Homo sapiens: one gene and its partner. The protein of the gene in region 2 purifies or fractionates together with the protein of the main gene of each other region. This does not show direct contact. Each region holds a gene or a part of one and is shown on either strand. Other genes may lie near its edges. The genes, in order: TMEM67 and SPINK4.

What was found.
Region 1: the proteins of SPINK4 (region 2) and TMEM67 purify together in Homo sapiens (affinity purification with mass spectrometry; 2 studies listed by BioGRID and IntAct, with this or other methods). This does not show direct contact.

What each region holds. Positions count from the first base shown.
Region 1 is NC_000008.11:93,815,991-93,818,690, forward strand, and holds the end of TMEM67 (meckelin isoform 1 precursor), read left to right. Parts: intron 1-381; coding exon 382-462; 3' UTR 463-2,131; downstream 2,132-2,700. UniProt on the Homo sapiens protein: Required for ciliary structure and function. Part of the tectonic-like complex which is required for tissue-specific ciliogenesis and may regulate ciliary membrane composition.
Region 2 is NC_000009.12:33,246,084-33,249,370, forward strand, and holds the end of SPINK4 (serine protease inhibitor Kazal-type 4 precursor), read left to right. Parts: intron 1-532; coding exon 533-645; intron 646-2,342; coding exon 2,343-2,388; 3' UTR 2,389-2,484; downstream 2,485-3,287.

The DNA of each region.
Region 1 (2,700 bases), on a different chromosome or scaffold from region 2:
GTAAGATGCAATTTATTAGTCCTTGACAGTGATCTAGAATTGTGAAGAAATTCTATCTCTAGTGAGTAGATTCTTTTGATGTTTCCGTAGTTTTAGACTTAGAAGAAAGTTGCCTTTCTATATATTTTAAAGTGTATTTCTGTGAACATGAGAGAATTTGTATTATTAATTCATAAGAATTTACTCTAAATGGGAACATACTATGAAACTATGAAAGAAATTATCATCTTGAAATAATTTTATGTATCACTATGGGATTCAGATACCTGATACATGAAAATAGTTGAGAGAATTAGCTAATTTAATCTAGATATTTTAATCGACGTGCATATTTAATTCTGTTTATATTTCTTTTCATTCTGAATTGTTTTAATTTTCCAGATTTTTAGATATATCCGTAATACAGTAGGACAAAAGAATTTGGCATCCAAAACATTGGTGGATCAAAGATTTTTGATTTAACTTCCTGAATAAATAACTTAAAGACTCAGTATAATCATGGCCAAAAAAAAGTCATGATATCAGGTTAGTTTGCCATATTTTTTAAAACTTATAATGCAGACTATTCTGTTTTTGTTTTTTATTTGCAGAAAGATTTATTTTTATAACTTGGGAATATATAACCTGATATAATAGAAAATACTGTTTTCCCATTGTGTGTAGTATTTAATGCAGTAAATAATAAATTAATACTGACAGTGAGGCCAAAAAAAATCTAAATGTTGCTTTCAGCATAATACTTTTTAATGCTAATTAAAACAGTCCCCATCATTTGTCTCTGTAGATTATTTTATAAACTGAGAGCTGCCTGAATCTTCTCACATTGACAAAGTAATTTGATTCCAAGTTTAAGACTAGTTTTCAGTTTGATATTTTCATGTTTTGTGTGCTTATGGTTAAATAAATGTTGAAAGATATTTTCAAGTTTACTTAGAAATTTTAAATTGTATTATTGCTGATTCAATTTGCATCATTCTAATTGCTCATCCTCTTTGGCAGTGGATTAATTCACTGTTGGGTTAATATGCATCTCATGAAATGATATCTTTTCATTCCTTTGTATACCTGTATTAGGTCAGTATACGCTTTCCATGAAATATATTTGCATTTCTAATATAGTTTACATTTATTAAGTTATAACGTATGACATTTTTCCCAATATCATTTTTTATACATTTTAATTACTTAATGTTTTAAGAGTTCTCTTCCAGAGTTTTGCTTTTCAATTACGTTTAAAGACTGTAAATAACAAACAGTAAGGCTGGGCGCTGTGGCTTACGCCTGTAATCCCAGCACTTTGGAAGGCCAAGGCACGTGGATCACTTTAGGTCAGGAGTTCAAGAACAGCCTGGCCAACATGGAAAACCCCATCTCTACAAAAAATACAAAAATTAGTTGGATGTGGTGGCCTGTAATCCCAGCTATTTGGGAGGCTGAGGCATGAGAATAGCTTGAAACCAGGAGGTGGAGGCTGTAGTGAGCCAGATAGCACCACTGCACTCCAGCCAGGATGACAGAGCAAGACCCTGTCTCAGAAAAAACAAAAACAAAACACTGTAAATGTATCATGTTTCTCACTGCTTTCTATGTTAATGCTGTGTAAATACTTAAAATGGAATACTGTATAAATATTATTTATATTTTCTCAGATGAAAATATATACTAAAACATTTGGTATTTCTGTTTTCTGTTTCATTAATGTATATCTGATGGAGTACCATTTAGGAATATAACATTATTGGGGCAGAGGTCCCAGCCATTGCCAAAGTTGAATCTTTTACATTTCCCTGAATCTTGAGGATGACTGAAAAGGAAGTCTTTGAAACTGCAGTTTCTGAAGGATCACAGTACAGGAATGCCTTTATAAAAGCTGCAGAGATAAATACATGTACTTATATGGCATGGATATTTAAAACCACTCACTCAGAAGCATATGAAAGAAATTCAACCATCATTCAACATAGAAGAAGTTAATTTTAGTGCAAAAGTTTTTAAGTATTAAATTTCACAATAAAGGATCAATTGGCTTACTTGCTGATAAATTAAAACAGAAAACATTTAAAATCATTCTAAATTTTGTATGATATTTTTATTTTGGCTAGGTGCATAAAAATGTGTTCAGATTTTCATACACTGTCGACTCCTTTGTTCACATTGTCACAATTTACATTTCCTGATCATGTGCATAATTATTCACTAGATTCATTACCCTTTGTCTATTTCTGTAGTACCCAATCACTATACTTTGACTCTTATATCCCTGATTTTACTGATTTTCTAGAAACATTTGATTTCTCTTCATTTCATAATGAAACAAAACCTAGAGAGGTTCTTTATAAGCTGTTGTGTACTTTGGATGCTCCTTAGAAACATACAGGCCCCTAAAATACTTCTGTAGACCAGTGCCTCTGTTATGGGAGATTTGTAAATGCTTCCTTCTCTGGCATTGCTGTCCTAACTGCCTTTTCAGAAGGCTTTGCTGATGACCTACATTGAGGAACATTCAAAATGATCATTAACTCAGCACTTACAAGCATGAAGCATGTGTTTTTTTTGTAAATATTGACAAATATAAGCTGAGGGGAAATAACTGTAAGTCAAGGAGCAGTGAGGAGTGTGGCTTAATGGAAAGTGCTCCAAATTTAGCAAAAGAAGCCCTGGATTCAAATTAGAATTTTGCCCATCACTCATAAGCTTTGG
Region 2 (3,287 bases):
AAGCTCTGCCCCATTTCTTCAGCCTTCGCACACTTTGCAGCCTTTCTGACATGGGCCTGATAGATCATGCAGGCCAGGGAGAGTTCAGGAGCCCCCAGGGAGAGAGGGGCCTCCTGGGAATGATGGGTGGTTCCGTATCCTGGGGTCTTCAATGGGACCAGCAGAAGTTCTGATTAGTGCCTCTGAAGAGGGTGTGAACAAGTCCCCAGGAGCTTGAGGGCACAAACTCACTCCACACACATAGACATAAACACAGGCATACGCTTGAATGCCTGCACACCGGGGGCTCCAGAGACACAGGTACACATATGTACACATCCAGCCATAGGCACACACGTGGTCATGCACACGCACATACAAGCAAACACACCAAGGGGCTCTGAGTGGTTGGTTTCATCTTCACTGGACCCACACTGGGGGCCTTCTTGACTCTGATACCTCACTGGGGCCCCACTGGTTCCGAGCAGAACCCCTGTATCCCTCCCCACTGCCTCTGAATCCCTGAGTCCTCTCCCTCCCTTCTCTTCCACAGCCCATCTGTGAACACATGGTAGAGTCTCCAACCTGTTCCCAGATGTCCAACCTGGTCTGCGGCACTGATGGGCTCACATATACGAATGAATGCCAGCTCTGCTTGGCCCGGATGTAAGTCTGCCCCACAACCCCTGCTTGCTTGGGTGGGCCCCATCTCTGGTGCACAGTCTGAAAGGAGCAAGACTTGACCTGCTTCTTCCTTCATACACGCTTGACCTGAGAAGAGTCCTCCAACATATGCCCCTAATAGAATGAGTGCCAGATTAACTCAAAGAAGGCACATGGTTCCAAGCAGAAATCTAGAAGCTGGTGGTGGATAGGGAGTAGGGGCAGAAACCATTTTCCTTGTTCTGCCTTGATTGACTAGGTGACCTCATCTGTTTTTTCATTCGTCTAGCCAGCAATTATTTATTGAGCATTTACTATGTGCTAGGCACTGGGGCTAGAACAGAGCCTAAGTTAGACAGCATCACTGGCCTTCTGGAACATACAATTGGTGTAAGGGGGAAGCCAGGCTGATAGTCAGCCAATTGCAGCACAGAATTTTTTTTTTTTTTTTTTGAGACAGACTCTCACTGTCACTCAGGCTGGAGTGCAGTGGCACGATCTTGGCTCATTGCAACCTCCGCCTCCTGGGTTCAAGTATTCTCCTGCCTCAGCCTCCCGAATAGCTGGGATTACAGGCGCCCACCACCACACCTGGCTAATTTTTTTTTTTTTTTGTATTTTAAGTAGACATGGGGTTTCACCATGTTGGCCAGGCTGGTCTCGAACTCCCGATCTCAAGTGATCCACCCGCCTCAGCCTCCCAAAGTGCTAGGATTACAGGCATGAGCCACCGTGCCCGGCCTTCAGCACAGAATTCTAAGGGATCAGTGGGGCACACAGGAATAAGTAGAAATTAGCTAGGAAAAAGGAGCAAGGGAAGATAATTCCAAGTAGATGAATTTGAAAAGGTCTACAAGGAAAAGTTTACATTTGAGGAAATATAAGAAGTTGGACATGTTGGAGTATAAGGTTTAAGGGAGAATCAGGGAGAGGCAAGAAGTGAGTCCAGAAAGATGAGCAGGGCTAGAACATGACCTCCCTACATCAGATCACCTATTGGCTCTTAGTTTCTTCATCAATAAAACCCATCTTCTATGATCCTGAGAACTAAATGAGACCATGGAAGTGAAGAAAGTCCTCGGAAGCTGCAAAGCTCTGGATAGATGTGAAAGTTTGTATTTGAGGAAATATAAGGAACATCAGGATGTTGTCCTAGCTTAGAGAAAGATCATGCTAATCAAAGACTCATGGTTAGGAGGTACATTGGGAGTGGAATTGACAGGCTTGGTATGTGACTGTATGTAAAGGCTGAGGGGAAGGAGGCAGCATACTGGTTTCTGATTTGTGGGCTTGGGTGGCCAGTGGTTTCATGGGCTGAGATGGGTGGTTTGGGGGTCTGTACCAGTTCTGTGGGGGGCAGTGATGTTTGTGGACAGTTGAGCCCCTAGGACATCCCACTGGATATGGACAACTGCATGAACAGGTAGGACATAGGTCCGAGCTGGAGACAGATTTGGCAGCCATCAGCGTGCGCTGGTGGTGGAAACCCCAGGAAGCTAAAATCCCCCAGGGGAAGGGTGTACAAAAAAGGAAAAGCTGTAGAAGGATGTGCCCATGGACCCTTGGGATCTGCCCTGTATCCATACACTGCATATGTGGGCGACGCTCAGCAGGATGTCTGGATGGACTGTGCCAGGTCCCTGAATGGTACACTACAGCTCCTGAGAAGGTAGCCTCATGCCTGTCTTCTTTGATCCTAGAAAAACCAAACAGGACATCCAGATCATGAAAGATGGCAAATGCTGATCCCACAGGAGCACCTCAAGCCATGAAGTGTCAGCTGGAGAACAGTGGTGGGCATGGAGAGGATATGACATGAAATAAAAGATCCAGCCCAACTGAGTGAAGTGGTCAGTGTCTCTGGGGACACTGGTTGCAGAGGGGATAGGAGGTGGATCTTGCATTGTCGCCTCTACTCTGAATTTGATGTCCAGCTTCTCTCCGTCCCTCTGGTGCTCCTCAACCCTGTCACATGTCCCCTCAGAGGTCCCAGTTATCTTCTGCCTGCCTGAGAGGCCAGTCCCTGACCCCAGGATGCTGCCTAGTACTCCTGTCTGCCCCAGCCTGGACTATCATTCAGGCCAAGAACCTAGGTGAGGTCTGTATCCTCTGCCACTGCTGGGGTGCACGGCCCAGCCTCAGAAAGCCTCTGTGAAATCAGGAACAGTAGCTCATACCTATAATCCCAGCACTTTGGGAGGCTGAGGGTGGCAGGATTGCTTCAGGCCAGCCTGGGCAACATAGCAAGACTGTCTTTACAATTTTTTTTTTTTTTAATTAGCCAGGCTTGGTGGCATGCACCTGTAGTCCCAGCTATTCAGGAGGCTGAGGTGGGAGGGGATTGCTTGAGCCCAGGAAGTCGAGGCTGCAGTGACCCATGATCGCATCACTGCACTCCAGCCTGAGTGACAAAGTGAAACCCTGCCTCAAAAAAGAAAAAAAAAAGCTTTGTGAGAGTCATCCTGTGCCCCCCATGGCTTCCTCCTGGGTTGTGCCAGCACTCCAAGGCATGTACACACAGACACGTGGCACAGCAATGGCTGATATTCAGGCAGTGTACACAGTACAGCTGAACTGCTTGTTGTAACATTGAACTAGGTTTTTCACAATCGAAAACAGGTGATGCCCCAAGCCCTTTGAGTGCC